Linked DNA regions of Homo sapiens. The protein of the gene in region 1 purifies or fractionates together with the protein of each later gene. This does not show direct contact. Each region holds a gene or a part of one and is shown in the gene's direction. Other genes may lie near its edges.

Region 1 (6,500 bases):
ATGGAACCTGTGAAGAGAACAGAAGCTCCAGGATATTATGAAGTTATAAGGTTCCCCATGGGTAATACCATTAACATTTTCTAAGTATAGATTTAAAACTCTGGATGGCGGTGTGGGGGACAAATGGTTGCTGAGGTTGATTTGTACTCCTCTGCTTAGGGTAGGAAGTGTATGACGGGTGGTGGGATTCCATGCACCGTGGCGGGTCAGTGATGGCAGAGAAGTGGGTGGCTGTGTTCATTAGAGACATTCTGCAGCTGTCGTTTAGAGCCCACATGAGCTTAACGACACTAGACGCAGAAAATCCACGGTAACTGCAGACAGCACTAGATTTGAAAGCTGGCACTTTAGATATAACTTTGCTTATATTCTAACTCTTTGGTGCAAATAGAAAAACATCAGCTTATCCTCTTGATATGCTTTGCGTCTGTCGTAAATAGGTATTCCTTTGAATAATTATTCAGGATAATAATGAAAGAAGTTAGATTAAAGTACTTGACTGCTGTACTTTCAGAGGGAGAAATTCTACTTACCACAATTCTTGATTTTCCATGCCCTTGATGGGTACTGTTAATGTCACTGTATATACTCTTTATTTTACGCTTTGTCTCATATCCAAAATCAAACAAAAAAGGATGTCTTCAGAAATGTAGAATTGTGCAGTTTGGTGCTGTGCCCACACCACTCTAAAATTAATGATTAATTGAATCATTTGAGGTCGCTCAAATTAAACTAATTTGGCATTGTGTGGGTGACAACCAGTTGAAATGTTTTCTTTTTATCAGCTATGTGGCCATATTTTTGGAGAGAGCCAGAGTCTTCTGTCTCTTTTCTACCTGTAATCTATTCCAGGTGCTAAGAACTGTGAAAGTCCAGCTTGGGTAATGTAGTGAGACCCTGTCTCTACAAAAAGTAAAAAATTAGCCAGGTGCAGTGGCACACGCCTGAGGCCCCAGCTACTTGGGAGGCTGAGGTTGGAGGATCACTTGAGCCTGGGAGTTTGAGGCTGTAGTGAGCTGTGATTGCACCACTGCACTTCAGCCTGGGCACTGGAGGGAGACCGTATCTCAAAAAAAAAAAAAAAAAAAAAAAAATTGTGGAAGTGTTAAAAATGTGAAAAGGAAGAGTGAAAGGGACGCATTAGCTCCTTGAAAACTGAGTTATTTACAGGTGTTTTCTATAGCATTTAAATGTTTCACATGAATATTTTATATATTTGTAGTAATGATTTCAGTAGCCTACACCCTTTAAAGTGAACACACATCTATATGCTTTTCTTTCTCTCTTCTCTCTGACTTACCACTATTTATTTCAGTACAAGAAAATAAAGGGTATGGTTGACTCAGTCTAGAATTCTGAATGGAAGGCTGATTTGGGAATCAATATTGTCCACTATGTGCAAAATATGTTAAAACTCTTTGTGTCCATTTCCAACCATAAATTAACTGATTTTTGCATCCTCTTCCTCTGGACCATCTCAGCTTCTTTTGGGAAACCCCCATGGGAAGCTGTGTGACTTTGGGGCCCTTTCAGCCCCTGTGCACATGCACTCTGATGACGTGCAGCGATAGGTCTAGCAGATCTCGTCGATCATAGCCTACTTGCAGCCTGCTTTCTGAAAGTGTTTTGCTTGGTCCCACCCGTGAAGGTTGTGAACTTCTCCAGTTGGATACCACCTGTATGCATAGCTGAGTCTCACAAGGGGGGAAACTGACCTAATTGAGCAAGGCCAGTGATGGGCTGAAATGTGTGCTGGACAAAGTTAAAGCTATAAATGGTGTTCTTCAGTAGGGCAGTATTTTTTTTCTTGGTATTGTTCAGATGCTGAGTAAAATATTTAGTCTTGTCCCCAAGATTATCTTGTATTTGAAGACAAGATTGACAAATCAGTAATTTTACATTTTCCCACGATTTCCTTATTTGATTTTTCTAATAACATTACTTTTCTTTCCCCATATTCTGAAAAACTGTTTCTCTCATATGGATGGGATCTAACCTGTTTTACTTAGGGAGTCACACACTGGACATCAGCTGTATAGTCTGGCCCAAGCATGACTTCTTGTTACCCATGGATGGCTAGGCAGGGTTTTGCTGCTTACCCAGAATTCCCAAGTTAAGGGGAAAGGACATGAAAACTGAATAATTTAATGGTGTCTCTATATTTGGTACCACCAATATTTAGTCACCTTTTTTAACCCACCTCATTTTGTCAATTGAAAAAACTCTACGAAGGCCAGAGGAAGAAGAATGCTATCTATAGCTTTAGAATAGAAAGGAAGTATTCAGAATTGGTTATAGTTATTCAGAAAAGTCCAGACACCGCCATAATTCTTGCTTTGTTTCTGCTGCATTTTAGGCTCTCTCCATCTTTTCTTACCCATCTCCTAAAAAAGTTCGAAAAGCTTTTGGACAAACTTCTTTGTGTCGTGTCATCCTTTTACTCCCCCTCCCCCTTTTTGGGGGGTACATGTTTCTTCCTTTTAAAACATTATACATATTATATTGGGCAGCATATCTTAAGTGGTAGACATTTAGGTGGAAAAGTGAAAGGAATGTAAACATCTACTTTTACTTAGGGCCAATTTCATTGTTTTTTTCTTCTTTAAATGAGAGAACATTTTGATCTGTTCAGTCACACTTGGATGGGACATTTAGTGTGAGATTTGATGAGTCTTTGTGTTTCTTAGCGCTTTTAGATTTTTATCTCTCTCCAAACTGTTTTAGAGAAGAAAGAAAAGTTGAAAGTTGAATTTACAGATGTGATGACATACACTCTAACCAAGATAGGCTTTATTCAAGAGATAGGCAGAAGCAGCTTTTTTCCATTTCTTCTTTGATGCTTTTGTGGTGGATTTAGGATATTGATGCAAATGAATTCCTTCCCATTTGGGGATATTGTACGTACATTTACTTACCTTATTAAATGATGATCCCAATGTATTTGGTTATAGGTTTCTTTCCCCCTGGAAATTTTATAACATACTTATAATTTGGGATATTGGTAGTCAGAAGTGGGGTTTTTTTTTTCCCATTTGACTTATTTTTCCACACATAGTTAATACAATTATAGCTTTTAACAATAAAGCCAGACTTCAAGACAACCAGGGAACCATAAATAGACAAATGTTAGCGTCTATTCTAATCTGCATAGAATTCCTTAAATTAGTCCTGACAGTGAGGATTGAAGAAACCCTACTTTAGTTTTATCAGTTTAGATGGAGTACTGTTTTCACCTGTAAAATACTACAATTTAAAGCAAGTAGCTATATTGGGAAATATTCTTTGCAATAGTCTCACAAGGCTTACTTGCTTTAGAAAATAGATTATTAAATGAAGTTTGTTATTCTTATTTCATTGATGGAGCTTGAAGCAAATTCATTTGAATCATTTTACATGCAAGGGCACTGGTGTGTTCACAGATGTATTTATTATCAGTTTCTCTATATGACACCAAAACAACTGTGAGTTTAGTGAAACAAATGCAGTCTGATTGTTTTAAGTAATTAAATGATTGAATACAAACGTTCCACCTGCTCTACTCCATATAGATAGAGCCTCTTCTGTATAATTCTGACTGAATAGCTAACAGTAGTCAGTTCATCATACTTATTGTTGCTAATCTACTTAGCTTCCTTGTGCTGAATAGGGGATTGAACCAGATGACTAATAATGGTCCCTTTAATGCTAAAATGGCTGTGATTTTACATTTTTAAAAAACCCACAAAAGAATGAACTTAAGATTTAAGAACTGTTTTCCTTGGTCATAAGAATTTCTCTTAAATAAAAGCATTGGGATGATAAAAATGTAATCAAACCAACAACATAGATTCCTTTCCCAGTCCCAGTTTTGTCAGCTGGTGTTTAAAGGGAGTCAAAGATTGCTAATATTTTTTTTTCCTGTGCAGATCTGAAAACCATGAGTGAACGCCTCAAGAATAGGTACTACGTGTCTAAGAAATTATTCATGGCAGACTTACAGCGAGTCTTTACCAATTGCAAAGAGTACAACCCCCCTGAGAGTGAATACTACAAATGTGCCAATATCCTGGAGAAATTCTTCTTCAGTAAAATTAAGGAAGCTGGATTAATTGACAAGTGATTTTTTTTCCCCTCTGCTTCTTAGAAACTCACCAAGCAGTGTGCCTAAAGCAAGGTGGTTTAGTTTTTTACAAAGAATTGGACATGATGTATTGAAGAGACTTGTAAATGTAATAATTAGCACTTTTGAAAAAACAAAAAACCTCCTTTTAGCTTTTCAGATATGTATTTAAATTGAAGTCATAGGACATTTTTATTTTATGGAATAGATTTTAATCTATTTACTACTATTAAGGTAAATTTTCTATGGCATGTCCATTAGCTATTTCATGATAGATGATTAGGGGTTTCCTCAAAACCTGTGTGTGAGGAAATTGCACACAGTAGCAAAATTTGGGGAAATCCATAACATTTTCAGACCATGAATGAATGTTTCCATTTTTTTCTAATGGAATGTGAGAGTTTACTTTTATTTTATTCTGAAGGACTTTAAGGAAGGGATACATGATTTTAAAAAAGCCTGTAAGAGGTGAAATATGTGATGTTTGAAGTCTCTTTATAGACTTTTTATATATATTTTTTAAAACACTCATCTAGATGAGGTGCTTTGAGCAGTTCTGAAAAATGCAGTTCCAGGAAAGCAACTGCTTTGGTTCCTAAGGAAGAAATTCTAAATAATGCAAACTTTTAAAATAAGCATCTAGGTTTTTGATAATTCTGTCTACTTACAACAAACTTGTTAGTACATAACCACTATTTTAATAATTATTTTCTCTACACAAATGTGTAATATCATATTTGACTTTGCTTATGCAGGCCATAAGTTCCAAAAGATAATTTCCCTGCCCACAAAGGCATAAACTTGAAAACACATGAGATTGAATCAACATGCTTTAATAGGAAAAGATGTATGGTCTATATATGTATCAATCTGGTGAATCCTCGTTCTAATAAAGGTTCTTTTTCTTTTCTATGATACACACAGCCACGCTGATAATATGCAAATGAACATTTTCCTTTATGTCTCTCCAGATAATGTTTATTGTCTGAGGTAAATTAAATTCCCACCAGGGTTTGCTGTCAGTATTTTAACACCCACATTAGTATATGCGTCCAGGGTCATAACCCCCTAAAATCCATCATGCAACCTTATTAATCTGTCTTGGGATTCCAGTTTAGTGCTTGGATTTATTTCCTGATTACACTACATAGAAAAGTGAGACATCTGCCATTCCCAACTCTGGGAAAACCAACTAATATACAACCATATAAATGAAGGCCATCTTGATGGTCTCAACACTAATTTTTATGATGCAAATTTATACACTGATTTTTGTAAAGGACAAAGTTTTAAAAGCGTATTTAACTTGATGTTTTCTATCAGCATAAATAAAATGGTCATGAATAGTCATTAAAAACAGTTGCCAGTGATAATCTGCATGAAGGAAAAAGAACCCTGCAAATGGCTATTGAGTTGGAAGTATTGTTTTTGATATGTAAGAGATATTCAGAATGCTCACACTGAAAATGCCTCAACTTTTTAAAGTGTAAGAAACCACCATGAGTGGTGTCTAGATTTCTAATGAAGAATCATGATACAGTTTGGATTAAGTATCTTGGACTGGTTTTAAACAGTGCTTTGTACCGGATCTGCTGAAGCATCTGTCCAGCTGGTATCCTGTGAAAGTTTGTTATTTTCTGAGTAGACATTCTTATAGAGTATTGTCTTTAAAATCAGATTGTCTCTTCTATATTGAAAGCATTTTTATGTTTTCTAATTTAAAAATTAATATTTTCTTATAGATATTGTGCAATAAAGCTGAAGTAGAATGTGTGGTTTTTGCAAATGCTTTAACAGCTGATAAAAATTTTACATTTGTAAAATTAATATATTGTACTGGTACAAAATAGTTTTAAATTATATTTTAAAAAGCTTCCAATCTTGTGGTGTGTTTTATTCATTCAGTAGGCTGAGGTTAACAGAACAAATTATGATCTGGTTGATAACCATCAATTGAATCCTTAAACCTTAGATCTTAAGCATTCTGTTGCATTTGGGGGAGGTTTCATAAAAAATCCATAGGTCATCAGTAAGAGATTTTCAGGAGAGACACTTACTCTGTCTTTTGAGTTATCCACTGCATCTTACCCACTCACCCGCTAAACAATAACAAAAAAGATTCATTGAAAGAAGAGTGTTGTTGGTTTAGAAATTAAAAGATTTTTGTTTTTATACTTTGCATCTGTGAAATATATATGATGAGAGAAAAATACAGCCGATTTTTAAACATCTCCCATATGAGCTTCTAATGTGATTCAAAATGATGTCTGTAGGAAAGAATACTATATCCTTTTGGGGTTTGAGAGGACCCAACCAAGAGAACCCCTCTTCCCTACTGAAATCTAAACCAACTGAGAAGTTAAAAAAAAAAAAAAAAGGCATATGATGGCCAAAGTATTAC
Region 2 (7,041 bases), on another chromosome or scaffold:
CTATATGCTCCATGAGGGCGGGGACCATATCAATATATCTTAGGACAATATCTATCCTGGCATGTAGTCAGCACTTAACATAAATACAGGCTGAACGAATGAAGGAGACAGGCTCAAAGAAGCCAGATAATTTGCTTCTTTTTCTTTTTTTTGAGACGGTATTGTTCTGTTGCCCAGGCAGGAGTGCAGTGGCATGATCACGGCTCACTGCAGCCTTGACCTTCTGAGATCAAGTGATCCTCCCATCTCGGCCTCCTGAGTAGCTGGGACCACAAGCATGTGCCACAACACCTGGCTAATTTTTTTAAATTTTTTTGTAGAGACAGGGTCTCACTGTGTTGCCCAGGCTGGTTTCAAACTCCAGGCCTCAAGCAGTCCTCCCATCTTGGCCTCCCAAAGTGCTGAGATTGTAGGCACAAGCCACCACACCCAGCCAAGACATTTGTTTCTAAACCAGCTTCCCCACCACTAGTATGGTGAAAATAAATCTGTCATGGAGAGATTAATATCATATTTTTTTAACTGAGTAAAATAACTTTCTAAAAACTGAGTTAAATTTTTCTGCAAGTTGCTTAAAGCCTCAGAAACCAATGCCAATGATAAAAAATATCTCTAAGTTCTTACCTCTCAATGAAAGAAACCCTTATTATAAATTCGGTTTTTCTTTTTTTATCCTTAGTGGAAATTGATCACTGCACTGAAATATTTAAGATTTATATGATATGCAGAATTAATGGAACTTCCTTTTTTTCAAACATAATAGAGTCATTTTACTAAAGCCTTAATTTTCATGATTTTTCGTTTTTGTAACTATTAAACAGACTATTCTCTACTTATGAATTCTGTCACCCAACAACCATGAAACTGATAAGATAACCCCACTAGAGGGTTTTATTTTGTAACCCTTATTTCCTGTAATATTTTGACCATTTTCTCCAACTGTAGACTATAGTAAATATAGATTCTTTGCTTTAAAATACCATTATGGGGGCCAGGTAAAACTAGGATAATTCTATGCGTGTGTAAGGCCAGGTGTATTATTTTGGTTTATATATTGATTACTGTATACTCGTCGTTTACCATTAAAAATTATTACCACAAGGATTGTTTGGCCAGAACTTTACATTTCAAAAGATTATAGTCTATCAACCATTTCCTTTAAGTTCTTACTTTATTTCTGAACTGAGAAAGTTGTCTGTTATTTTGTCTGTAATTTGATTCTTTAATCCTTTGGTTTAAAGGATCATTATTTTAAAGGGGTTAATATATATTGATCACTTTGGACTGCTGCTCCTGGAATATTTTTCTCTACCCTCAGGTCTCTGAAGAGCAGTTAACCAAATCAAATGAATAGTTATTTCCTGATCACCAAGATAAAGTGTAAGATATACTCATTAATCTATTTTAGAAGCAGTCCTAGCATAAAAACACTATAGGTAAAAGTTTTTACATAAAATTTGAATATCACAGAAGCACTTTCACAGACCAGCATGAGATCAATTGCTGAATCATATAGGAATTGCATTCAGAATGAAAGGAGAAAGTGATTTGGTTGGCGGTAGTCAGAGAAGGCTTTACTGAGCAGGAGGTAGGCTTTAAGTCAGCACTTGAAGGATGGATTGAGTTTCAGTAGACTGGAAGAGGAGGAGGAAGAGGAGTAATTTGGGTAAGAAATAACATGAGCAAAAAGGCAGGCTTGACGACTGTACAGGAACAACTAAGGCTTTGTTGTGAATGGGGGTTTCAGGCTGGAGATCAATGAATATTAGTCTGAAAGCAGTTTGTAAAATTATTTGTAAGAGGAATGGCAGGGAGACTGACTGTGAATTAAAGTGCTTGGCAATCTTGAGAAATGAGGTGAGAAAGGACCAGAATTTGACAGCATTGTGGAACTGGAAGGCAGGAGCTTTATTTCATAGTTAAATTACCAAGGTGGAATCTCCAAGGCTCAGGAGTAAAGGAGGAAGAAGAGGTGACGATGGCTCAGGCTTTAAGACTGGAGTGGAGATGAAGATTTATTGAAAATAAATAAGTCAGAAGGGTTTATGTTTGTTAAATTGTCATGACAGTGGCATCCTACTGCATAGCTTGCAGTGGGAAATTTGAGGCTAGGATTTAGGAGAAAGATAAAGACTTGTAATAAAGAACATGTAGCATCAGCTACATGGAGATGCAAATTAAAGTCTTAAGAAGTGATAAAATCTCAAAGGAAGATACTAGGGAAAGATATAAGAGTATCTATGTCTATATCCACCTGAATGTATTTTTCCTCCACAGGTTGTCTGTAGATGAGAGATTCTGTGAGCTCACCTATTGCCGTAGGTCCTATTCTTCAGGAGGTGTAGTGGGAAGAACACAGCCTTTGGAGTCAAGCAACCTCTGGATTTGAACCAGGGCCAGCTGTGACTCTTAAACATGATCATGGATGCAAAGTACCTGGCTCCTAAGAGGCACACACCCAGTGTTAATTCTTTAAAGTGAAATGAGCATTTGAGGATTGACAGGAGGAAGAGGAACCAAAAAGGGAGTGACGACAGGACCAAGTAGTGTGGGCTTTCAGAATAAAGGACAGAGGAGTGCTAGTCAATAGAGCCAAACCTTGAAGAAAGGTAGAGGAGAATGAGGACCGACAGGATTAGTTTTGTTTAATTTAGTATCCTTTTTACTACTAATTTCCATGAACTCATGAAAAACTCCATTGTTCTCTCATTTACCGCCAGTAGAGTTGGGCACCAGGTAGGCATTCATTACATTTCAGTGGGTAGATAGAAGGAAGAAAAAGTGTACTTTCAGAGGATATGTTTGTTACTTTTGCAGTTAGAAAAAAATATATTTTAAGTGAGTACACTTTCAGTAAAATACAGAGTATGTTAGATTGCAAGGGAATAATTTAAAATGGGAGTTAGAATTCTGAATCTCACCTTCTTCCAAATTGATCAGTTTTTTTGTTTTATACCCAGCATACTGTTCTCTTCAGACAAGAGAGAGCAATTAAGCAATTTTGAACCTATGAGCTGAAGCAACAGTGAATTTCAGTAAGTTTTAAAGTAGTACATCACTATTTCTTGATAGCTAGGTTTTTTTCTAAACTTACTCAATTGAAATGCCTCTCATTTTAGAAAAGGAGCCTGAAATTTTGTTTCTAAGGAATTGAAAACAATCCTTCATCCCAATAAAAAACAAAGGGAAAAGAAAAACCAAAATCTAGTCACAGTTCTCGAAAGAAACAGCCAAGAGCCAACAGGATGGATATGTAGAGGTTTACTTTAAGGAATTGTTCCATGCAATTGTGGAGGCTTGGCACATTCAAAATCAGGGCGGGCCAGCAGGCTGGAGACCCAGGAAAGAGTTAGTGTTGCAGTTCAAATCCAAAGGCTCTCTGCTGGCAGAATTCCTTCTACTAGGGGAAGATAAGTCTTTTTCTATTAAAGCCTAAACTGATTGATTGATTGATTGGATGAGGCCCACACTTTATGGAAGGTAATCTGCTTTACTCAAAGTCTACTGACTTAAATGTGTTAATCTCATCTAAAAAAAAAAATACCTTCACAGAAACATTTAAAATAATGTTTGACTGAATATCTGTGTGCCGTGGGCCCCCCCACAGTTTGACATGTAAAAGTAACCTCACAAGTCCACTCCTTATTAACTTGGCACCTGTATGCATCTCCTTATTCCATACTTAATCTCCAAATAAAGAGAATAACAAGTTCATACTTCCACCTAACCTAATAAAATTATCCTGTGTACAACCAAAAAACACACTAACCTTTTCCCCGGAGGAGAATGCAAAGTCCTTGGATGATGTTTACTCCTCTCCGTGATATTCCATAATTTTGATACGGTGAGGTAAAGTTAACAATACTTAAATACTATGATATGGAGTCAGTAATCTGGCCAGGCACAGTGGCTCACACCCTTAATCCCAGCACTTCAGAAGGCTGAGATGGGTATATCACTTAAAGTCAGGAGCTCAAGACCAACCTGGCCACCATGATGAAACCTCATCTCTACTAAAAAAAAAATACATATATATATATATATACATACAAAAATTAGCTGAGCGTGGTGTCACACGCCTGTAGCTACTCAATAGGCTGAGGCAGGACAATCACTTGAACCCAGGAGGCAGAGGATGCAATGAGCCGAGATCGCGCCACTGTACTCCAGCCTGGGTGACGGAGCGAGACTCCATCTCAAAAAAATAAAGTCAGTAATCCGATGTTCCATGATAAGGGAACGAGAAAGGAAAGAATGCGAAGATATTTTCTTTTTATATATCTATATATAGATATTCACACCAAAACATTCGTAACAAAACAAGAAATACAACAATTACAGTCCTCGTTTCTGTAGCTGGTCACATGGTGGTTGCTGGTATTCATGGTTGCCTCTTTCCACTACCCATTCTGTATTCCCTTTGCACTCATCTCGCAAGCTGATCGTGGTTTACCTGGTGGGGTGACCCAAACCTTCATTCTTCAGGGGTGTGGGCCATTCATAGTCCTGTATGGATTGTTGTCATTTTTATCGACTGTAATCACAGGGCAGGGTACAGAGATGTCCTAAGGGATCTCCTTAAGCCAGACATACTCCTCCTTACCTCCATTGTGTAGCAGTTCCAGTTCCTCTTGGGCAGGATCAATTACCCCAGCCAACACTGTAACTCCCTTCCTTGCCTATTGATTCAGAGGTGTGAGGAGCCCAAAGTGGCTGGGTGGCTGTCTTAACTTCCAGTTCAGTGGAATGATTGTAATTTTTCATCCTCTAAATAATGAGTAGGGATACATTTATTCTAAAATGCATATTATGAATATTATGCAGCAGATTCATTCACCTTGTGATAAAGTGAAATAGGGTGTTAAGCAGAAATAACATGCAGATATCTTTTATCATCAAATTAGGGAGCAAGATTCTCTGATGCAGTATTCCTCAGTCTTAAACCCTGTATTGATGCCTTTTCATGAAAAAAAAAAAAAATGCTACCAGAACATAAGTGCTGACTTAAAACATTTTTATTTTAATTTATTTAAATATGTACAAACATTACACTAGATCTAAAACCTTTATGCTTATTATATTTCTTTATGAAACCCAGACTCATTACAGATAAGGGACAAGCAAAACCCCAAAGGCAGTCAAGTTGAAAATAACACTGAGTGAATGTAACGGATGGATTTTGCCAGAACTACCTTGCTACTGCAAGCAGGCATCTGGACAGCACTGGTGACTGTGACACGGGCTGGTCTCAGCTCCTTGGGGGGCTTCTGCCCTGCAGTGGCCCTGCTGTCTCCCCACTGTGTATGAATCACATCGAAACCTTTGCTCCCTCACAGCATGCCTTAAGCACTTATTTAGGTGTCAATTATACCTCTGTTCTTTTCTCATTCACCCATGAATTCAAGCTGTACACCTTTTAAATAACATTCTCTGTCTTACAGTTTCATGGCGCTAAACTCCCAAGTTAGTAAGTAGTTGAGTCTTAATGACGTAAAATGGTCTTATTTGTAAATTATCACTGCAAAAGAGAATTTAACTTGTTAACCAACAAAATCAGAATGAATATGCTGATGAGACAATTGTTAATGAAGGCTGTCATGTTAACACAGGACACGCCAGCCTGTATAACCAGACATGTTAATGAGCCCACTAAAATAAGTGCTTTGATTTTACTTGAGACAATGGATGCCAAAAGTAATCACAAAACACAAACTAGAGCACTAAAATCACTTGTCAGTACTTACTTGTTAAGCGGACATCCAGATAATTCTGAATATACTGTGTGTTGATTATTTTTTATATTATCATCACATTAAAAAATTGTGAAGAACTCAATCTTCCAAGAATATGTCTAAGTACCCTCAGATATCTGAGGTCCCCAATTTGAAGAAACACTAACATATTGGGAAAAAATACTAAATCTTGAAGACCTGGGTACAAGCCACTGTATTGTTGTGAACTCTGGCAAGTCACTTAACCACTCTGGGCATTAAGTTCCTGCGTTGTGCCCAACTTCAGGCCCTGATTTGCTGGACTTCAGAGTTCATGCTCTTTCTTCAATCAAAAGGCCTTTGAAATTCCAGAATCCTGTGTTGGGCTTATAGTTCAATCAGTACTCTTAAAAAATGGGGTCCTGGCAAGAAAGCATTATATGATGGTGGTGATCCCCAGGAGGGATCACGTTATTCTGTAAGATTATGCTGATTATAAAGCCTTCTTTTTCTTTCATTATAGATTCTGATTCCCAGCATAGCCACGAAGTGATGCCTCTCCTCTATCCTCTCTTTGTCTACCTCCATCTCAACCTGGTCCAAAACAGTCCGAAGAGCACAGTGGAAAGTTTTTACAGCCGCTTCCATGGAATGTTTCTGCAGAATGCTAGCCAGAAGGATGTCATTGAGCAGCTACAGACCACTCAAACCATCCAGGACATCCTATCTAACTTCAAGCTTCGAGCATTCCTAGATAACAAGTACGTGGTCCGTCTCCAAGAAGACAGCTACAACTACCTTATCCGCTACCTCCAAAGTGACAACAATACTGCCCTGTGCAAAGTCCTCACCTTACATATTCATCTTGACGTGCAGCCTGCCAAGAGAACAGACTATCAGCTGTATGCCAGTGGCAGCTCCTCCCGCAGTGAGAACAACGGTTTGGAGCCCCCCGACATGCCCAGCCCTATTCTGCAGAACGAGGCTGCCCTAGAGGTCTTACAGGAGAGCATTAAGCGAGTCAAGGATGGGCCTCCCTCCCTCACTACCATCTGCTTCTATGCCTTCTATAACACAGAGCAGCTGTTGAACACTGCAGAAATCTCCCCCGATAGCAAGCTGCTTGCTGCTGGGTTTGACAACTCCTGTATAAAACTTTGGAGTTTACGATCCAAGAAGTTAAAATCAGAGCCCCACCAAGTAGACGTGTCCCGCATCCATTTGGCTTGTGATATTCTGGAGGAGGAGGTATGAATACCATTTTTTTCTTCCCTGCACCCGCCTTCCTAATTTCCTTAGAATGTCCTTACCAAACACGACATATCTTAGA
Region 3 (7,041 bases), on another chromosome or scaffold:
TCCAGCTTCAGCAGTTTTCAACACATGGCCAGTCTGGTTTCATCTTTACCACTCACTCTTCCCTCCTGCCCTCAACTGGATTATTCTGAAGCAAATCCCAGACATCATTTTATTTTGTTCATAAATATTTTAGTATTAAAAGTAGTTTTAAAAATGAGGACAGAGATGGATAGCTTGTGGAGATAGTACTTCCATCGATCTCTTGCCTTTCTGTGGTATTTCTGTGAGAGCTCTACATAGTTACCATTTGATTTTTCACTATAAAAAATTAAAAGTTGTTATGAGGCCGGGCGTGGTGGCTCACACCTGTAATCCCAGCACTTTGGGAGGCCAAGGCAAGAGGATTGCTTGAGTCGAGGAGTTCGAGACCAATCTGGGCAACATAGTAAAACTCCATCTCTACAAAAATACAAAAGTTAGCCAGGCATGGTAGTGCACACCTGTAGTCTCAGCTACTTTGGAGGCTGAGGTGGGAGGATTGCTTGAACCCGGGTAGCCGAGGTTGCGGTGAGCTGAGATCACACCACTGCACTCCAGCCTGAGCGACAGAGTGAGACCCTGTTTCAAAACAAAATATGTTGGTATGGCAGTAAGGCCTAGATTGTTAAAATAATATGGACTCTGGCTTGTTCTGTACCTTTCATCATGACATTTGTGTATGTGGCTTCTAAGTTTAGTTCTGGGAAGGTAGTCTACTAAGGCCCTTATTCTCACCGTGAAAATATTTCTTACATAGCATTGCAGACATTTATCTGAGCCAGGTTGGTTGTCCTCACCAAACACCTTGTTTGGTTAGCATTCTTTGTGTGGTTTGTACCAGGTGACTGATCCTTTACTTCCTGTCCCAGTTTGGGACACACCCCTGGTTTATGTGTCATTCCAAAACACTACACCCCATGGATTGTCCAGGCTCTTCCTTCATTCTCTGTTTCAAAAGCAGCCAAATTAGAATGATTTGTAGAACTTTTAATAGAAGATAGTTAGAGCAGGGAAACTTGGTTGTTAAAAAAATTATATTTTGCCCAGTGCGGTGGCTCATTCCTATAATGCCAGCTACTTTGGAAGGCCGAGGCGGGTGGATCACCTGAGGTCAGGAATTCGAGACCAACCTGGCCATCATGGCAGAACCCCATCTCTACTAAAAATACAAAAATTAGCCGGGTGTGGTGGTAGATGCCTGTAATCCCAGCTACTCAGGACGCTGAGGCAGGGGGAATTGCTTGAACCCGGGAGGTGGAGGTTGCAGTGAGCCGAGATCATGCCATTGCAGCCTGGGCGACAGAGCGAGACTCTGTCTCAAAAAAAGAAAAAAAAAATTGTTACTTTTGTAGACAAATGAATTTAACCATTTCACTAAGTTTTCTAGAAGACAGTTCCAGCTGCTGCATCTGGAGACAGCAGCTGGAAGATAGCTGGAGTAGGTTTTCCTCAGCTCTTGGGTAAAATTTCTAATGAGAAGTTACCAACGAGTAGGATTCTCCAAATGAACTTCCCTAGTCTTATAAGGCAGAATTAATGAAAATGCTCAATAGCAAAAGTGCTCACTAATGTTGCTTTTGTTTTTGTAATTTTTTCCTTCATTCCTTTTGGGGAAAACAGTGGAATTTGAACTCCGAAGGGAAATCAAGAGGCTCCAAGAATACAGGACAGCAGGCATTACCAATTTTTGTAGTAAGTATGCTTCAGCTACATACCGTACTTGAGGGCAAGTATCTTCCAGACACACAGAGGAAGTCTCTGAATTGTTGTGAATTTTTTTTTAAAAAACAAGCTTTCCTTTACCAGAATGCTTTAAACCTTTCCAGTAAAGTTTTGGCTATTTAATCCCTATAAATACCTTTGTATAGATTATCTTTGGTACTACAAAAGTTGTGAGACAAAGGAAAGAGAGGTGCTGCTTTAGATTTAGGATTCTGCCGAGGCTCTTTAAAAAAAGGGAATCTTGGGCCGGGTGCAGTGGCTCACACCTGTAATCCCAGCACTTTGGGAGGCCAAGGCAGGTGGGTCACTTCAGTCCAGGAGTTCGAGACCAGCCTGACCAACATGGTGAAACCCTACCTCTACTAAAAATAAAAAAACTAGCCAGGCGTTGTGGTGCACACGTTTAATCCCAACTACTCGGGAGGCTGAGGCACAAGAATCGCTTGAACCTGAGAAGCAGTTGTTGTAGTGAGCCAAGATGGTGCCACTGTACTCCAGCCTGGGTGGCAGAGGGAGATTCTGTTTCAAAAAAAAAAAAAAGGAATTTTATATTTTAGGTGTGTCACCCTTTTCAAATTTAATGATACATGGTCTTAGCATTTTTATAAAATAATGAAGCTTCAACTGGCTCCAGGTGCTTGCATCCCAGTTACTTGGGGTAGTGACAATAATTATATTATTAGCAGCTAACATCTATCAGATATTTACCATGTACCAGTCTCTATGCTAACCATTTCACTTGGATCAAGTCAATGAATTCTCATGACAAACTTATAAAGTACCGTTACTTCCATTTAGTGAAGAAATTAAGGTATAAAGAGGTTACAGAGCTAGTTAGTACTAGAACCAGGTCATAAGAGATAGTGTATTATAGTAGTTAAGAGCTTGGGTCTAGACTTAAAAAGCTTGAGTATAAATTTTGGCTCTCCAGCTTGCCAGCTCTGTGATGTGATTCTATCCAAATTTATTTTTCTTTCCTTTTTTTTTTTTCCCTAGAGACTGACTCTTGCTATGTTGCCCAGGCTGGTCTCAAACTCCTGGCCTCAAGCAGTCCTCCCGCCTAGGCCTCTCAGAGTGCTGGGATTACAGGTGTGAGCAACTGTGCCTGGCCTCTATTCAAGTTTTAATTTTCTAAGGTTCTTAGAGTTAGTGTAAAGATTTAATTAGAGATACTGCATATAAGCATAGCACAGTATCTGGCACACAATAATTCCTCAATAAATGGCAGTTTCTGTTGTTTTGCTGTCATTGTTGAAATGATCTTTAGCATTCCCTCCTTCTTCCTATTTGAAGTTTTTGTGATTATTGATAGTTGTCACCTACTATCTATAAGAAATAGTTGGCTTCTTTTTTTTTTTTATTTGAGACGGAGTCTGGCTCTGTTGCGCAGGCTGGAGTTCAGTGGTGCCATCTTGGTTCACCACAACCTCTGCCTTCTAGGTTCAAGCGAGTCTCCTGCCTCAGCCTCCTGAGTAGCTGGGACTACAGTCATGCACCACCATACCCGGCTAATTTTTTTTTTTGTATTTTTAGTAGAGATGGGGTTTATCCATGTTGGTCAGGCTGATCTCGAACTCCTGACCTCAGGTGATCCACCCACCTCAGCCTCCCAAAGCGCTGGGATTACAGGTGTGAGCCACCACGCCCGGCAATAGTTGGCTTCTTAACACAGCCCTGTGGGTGCAACATAGCCTTATGGATGTAAGTTCAGCCTAGTATAATGGCTCTTTAACAGTGGAAACCATTTTTGAAATTAAATTTTGTGTGAGCCCCAATCTACAAATAAGATAAAAGTGGGCTGGGCACGGTGGCTCACACCTGTAATCCCAGCACTTTGGGAGGCCGAGGCGGGCGGATCACTTGAGGTCCAGAGTTCAAGACCAGCCTGACCAACATGGAGAAACCCCGTGTCTACTAAAAATACAAAATTAGCTGGGCATGGTGGCGCATGCCTGTAATCCCAGCTACTCCGGAGGCTGAGGCAGGAGAATGGCTTGAACCTGGGAGGTGGAGGTTGCTGTGAGCCGAGATCGCGCCATTGCACTCAAGCCTGGGCAACAAGAGCGAAACTCCGTCTCAAAAAAAGATAAAAGTGGAATTACTTTGGTTGAACTTTAATGGTTCAATTTATGTGTAGAGCCCAGGACCCGCCGGTATCTGGCAGTGCCCTTTCTCTTTACATTAACCTCTAAGATACTCTTGTGGTATCCTGGGGCTCTGTGGAACCTAGTTTGAATTTTGAAACCCACTGGTGCAGTATTTTGGAATCTGTGAACCTTTGTTAACATGTAGAAAACACCACGCAGCTCTTCTGTTTAGCAAGATGCATATAGAGACTCTGATAACTAATTTTGGTTTCCTGATATTGGCTGCCTCTAAGAAATATGGAGAAGAGGTACTACATGTCAAAGAGAACTCTTTTTTTGTAATTCTAATTGTTTTTTAAGGAAAGGCATATGCTTATAGCACTTGTGTGACTTTGAAAAAATTTATAAAAATAGAAAAAACAGGAAGCAAATATGACTATAGTAAAAGTTGGTTACTTTTTGAGAGTGGAAATATGAGCAATTCTTACTTTCTTTGTACTTTTCTGTTGGTTTTTTTCCCCTTATTTCTTACAGATAGAAAAGGAATACAAATGTTTAATATTTAATACTTAGTATTAAGAAAAGGATTTCAGACTAGGGAAAATCTACTTGGGTCTTGGAGAAATAATTGTGAAAGCAGTTTTGCAAAGGAAACAGACTTTAAGAACAAAACCCAAAACCGGTTTCTTGGTCAGTTAGGAAGCCCTTCAGTTCTGCTGCATTGTCATTGTGGTCATTGTGTTTTCTATACCCCCAGGTGCCAGAACCTACGATCACCTCAAGAAGACACGGGAGGAAGAGCGCCTTAAACGCACTATGCTCTCAGAAGTTCTCCAGTATATCCAGGACAGTAGTGCTTGCCAGCAGTGGCTCCGCCGGCAAGCTGACATGTGAGTAATTACTCCAGGGTGAAGGAGGCATTCTTTCTGGGATGCCTTGGCCTTCACATATATTTTTGGGCACCCTAGATGGCAGAGTAATAATAATTGAGTAGCTGGAAGAATTCAGAAATATTTTAGCAGTCCATCTCAGAAACAGTGCCATACTGACAGTTTTGAGAAATAACTGACCTCCTAGAATCATACTTTACTACTTTGATCCTATTTTTTAAAATGAGTGTATTTTCCCCCAGCCTTCTACCCATGACTTCAACTCTCTCTTCATACCTAGATTTTCACTGGGGAATCATGTTTGTATCCCTTCCCCTTGAGTGGTGTTAGTGGTGTTCTAGATTACAAGCTCTTCTTAACAAATCTGAGGAATTTTTCTTCCTCAGAACAGATTTTCTTTCCTGCTCAATACAGTGAGATATCTGTAAAACATAGTTCAGTCTATCTCATTACACTTCTTCAAGGTGACCTACCTGATAAATGGCACCCAGTCTCACCGGGGCTTTTGGAAATCACCTTGTTTGATATGACCTAAGTTTAAATTCCTCTTCTTCGTTGTAGTGATTCCGGCCTGAGTCCTTCCATTCCAATGGCTTCGAATTCAGGTAATTATTTCTCAGGCCAGAACAAGTCTTAATTGTGAAGTTTGCATCGTAGGGGTTATAGTGACCCAGCAATCTTCCTTCCTCTGTGGTGTCAGGGTGCTTAGGCAGAGTAACAGTAATCAAGTGTTAGCCCAATATATAAACATCAGTATGTTTTCAGAACCTTCATGGCCAGACAGAGACTATCCTCAGAGTGACAGTATAGAGTATAGACAGTATAGAGACAGGGGAAAAAAGAACTTCAGAGAGGTAACTTCTTTATTTTACCAATGTTCATGAGCAGTTAGTTTACTGCAGTTGTGTCTACCACTAATTTTGAGACTTATTTCACAGGAGATAAATTAAAAGCTTTTTATTTTATTATTTTTTATTTATTTACTTATTTTTTGAGACAGAGTCTCGGTCTGTCGCCCAGGCTGGAGTGCAGTGGTGTGATCTCGGCTCACTGCAACCTCCGCTTCCCGGGTTCAAGTGATTCTTCTGCCCCAGCCTCCCGAACAGCTGGGATTACAGGCATGCACCACCACGCCTGGCTAATTTTTGTATTTTTGGTAGGGACGGTTTTGCCATGTTGGCCAGGCTGGTCTCGAACTCCTGACCTCAAGTGAGGCACCCACCACGGCCTCCCAAAGTGCTGGAATTACAGGCGTGAGCCACCGTGCCCAGCCTAAACTTTTTATTTTTATATAACATGAGCAAAGAAGCATGTTACTTGCCAGAAACATAAGGATTTCTGAGTTAGAGACCTAAAGTATTTCTATTTCTTCGTTTTACCTCTTTGAGTATGTCCTATTTTGAAATTAGTATACAGAGCAAGATTAAGCCATACGCTATCTGATGATCCTTGGTGATTGGTAATCGATGACTGGGAATTGGGGGAGGTATGTCTCAGTAGATTCAGAATCTGGGTCTCAGATTTGTCCGCGTTAGGGACTTTTTTTTTTTTGAGATGGAGTCTCGCTCTGTCACCCAGGCTGGAGTGCAGTGACGCGATCTTGGCTCACTGCAACCTCTGCCTTCCGGATTCAAGCGATTCTCCTGCCTCAGCCTCCCAAGTAGCTGGGATTAGAGGCGCCTGCCACTATGCCCAGCTGATTTTTGTACTTTCAGTAGAGATGGGGTTTCGCCATGCTGGCCAGGCTGGTCTCGAACTGCTGACCTCAGGTGATCTGCCTGCCTCGGCCTCCCAAAGTGCTGGGATTACAGGCATGAGCCACTGCGCCTGGTCACTGAAGGGACTTTTTTTTTTCCCCCATTTATTCCTTTATTTCAAGTGATTTTTTCTTAATATGGAAAGAAGAAAAAGGTATTGTTTTAGGGGAGTGGCTAAGACAGTGAAATCAAAGTTTTATTTTGTAAGTTTCTTACTGCCAACACTCTACCCCCAAAATCTAAATACAACTAAGTTAATACTGGCTAATTAAAATGAAGGAACTGGGTCAGGTGCAGTGGCTCATGCCTGTAATCCCAGCACTTTGAGAGGCTGAGGCGGGCAGATCACCTGAGGTTGGGAGTTTGAGACCAGCCTGACCAACGTGATGAAAACCCATCTCTCCTGAAAAAAAAATATAAAAATTAGCTGGGTGTGGTGGTACACATCTGTAATCCCAGCTACTCCAGAGGCTGAGGCAGGAGAATCGCTTGAATCCGGGAGGCAGAGGTTTCAGTGAGCCAAGATCGCACCATTGCACTCCAGCCTGGGTGACAGAGTTAAGACCATCTCAAAAAATAAATAAATTAATTAATTAAATTAAATGA

Evidence for each region. Proteins that work in one complex are often made in the same cells at the same time.
Region 2: the proteins of KAT2B (region 1) and TAF5L purify together in Homo sapiens (affinity purification with mass spectrometry; 5 studies listed by BioGRID and IntAct, with this or other methods). This does not show direct contact.
Region 3: the proteins of KAT2B (region 1) and TADA2A purify together in Homo sapiens (affinity purification with mass spectrometry; 6 studies listed by BioGRID and IntAct, with this or other methods). This does not show direct contact.

What each region holds. Positions count from the first base shown.
Region 1 is NC_000003.12:20,148,427-20,154,926, forward strand, and holds the end of KAT2B (histone acetyltransferase KAT2B), read left to right. Parts: coding exon 1-61; intron 62-3,905; coding exon 3,906-4,099; 3' UTR 4,100-5,978; downstream 5,979-6,500. UniProt on the Homo sapiens protein: Functions as a histone acetyltransferase (HAT) to promote transcriptional activation. Has significant histone acetyltransferase activity with core histones (H3 and H4), and also with nucleosome core particles.
Region 2 is NC_000001.11:229,602,113-229,609,153, reverse strand, and holds part of TAF5L (TAF5-like RNA polymerase II p300/CBP-associated factor-associated factor 65 kDa subunit 5L), read left to right. Parts: intron 1-1,318; exon of another isoform or gene 1,319-1,346; coding exon of another isoform or gene 1,347-1,380; intron 1,381-2,277; exon of another isoform or gene 2,278-2,736; intron 2,737-2,960; exon of another isoform or gene 2,961-3,035; intron 3,036-6,234; coding exon 6,235-6,959; coding exon of another isoform or gene 6,960-6,965; exon of another isoform or gene 6,966-7,041. UniProt on the Homo sapiens protein: Functions as a component of the PCAF complex. The PCAF complex is capable of efficiently acetylating histones in a nucleosomal context. The PCAF complex could be considered as the human version of the yeast SAGA complex.
Region 3 is NC_000017.11:37,465,855-37,472,895, forward strand, and holds part of TADA2A (transcriptional adapter 2-alpha), read left to right. Parts: intron 1-1,599; coding exon 1,600-1,671; intron 1,672-4,545; coding exon 4,546-4,678; intron 4,679-5,239; coding exon 5,240-5,283; intron 5,284-7,041. UniProt on the Homo sapiens protein: Component of the ATAC complex, a complex with histone acetyltransferase activity on histones H3 and H4. Required for the function of some acidic activation domains, which activate transcription from a distant site. Binds double-stranded DNA.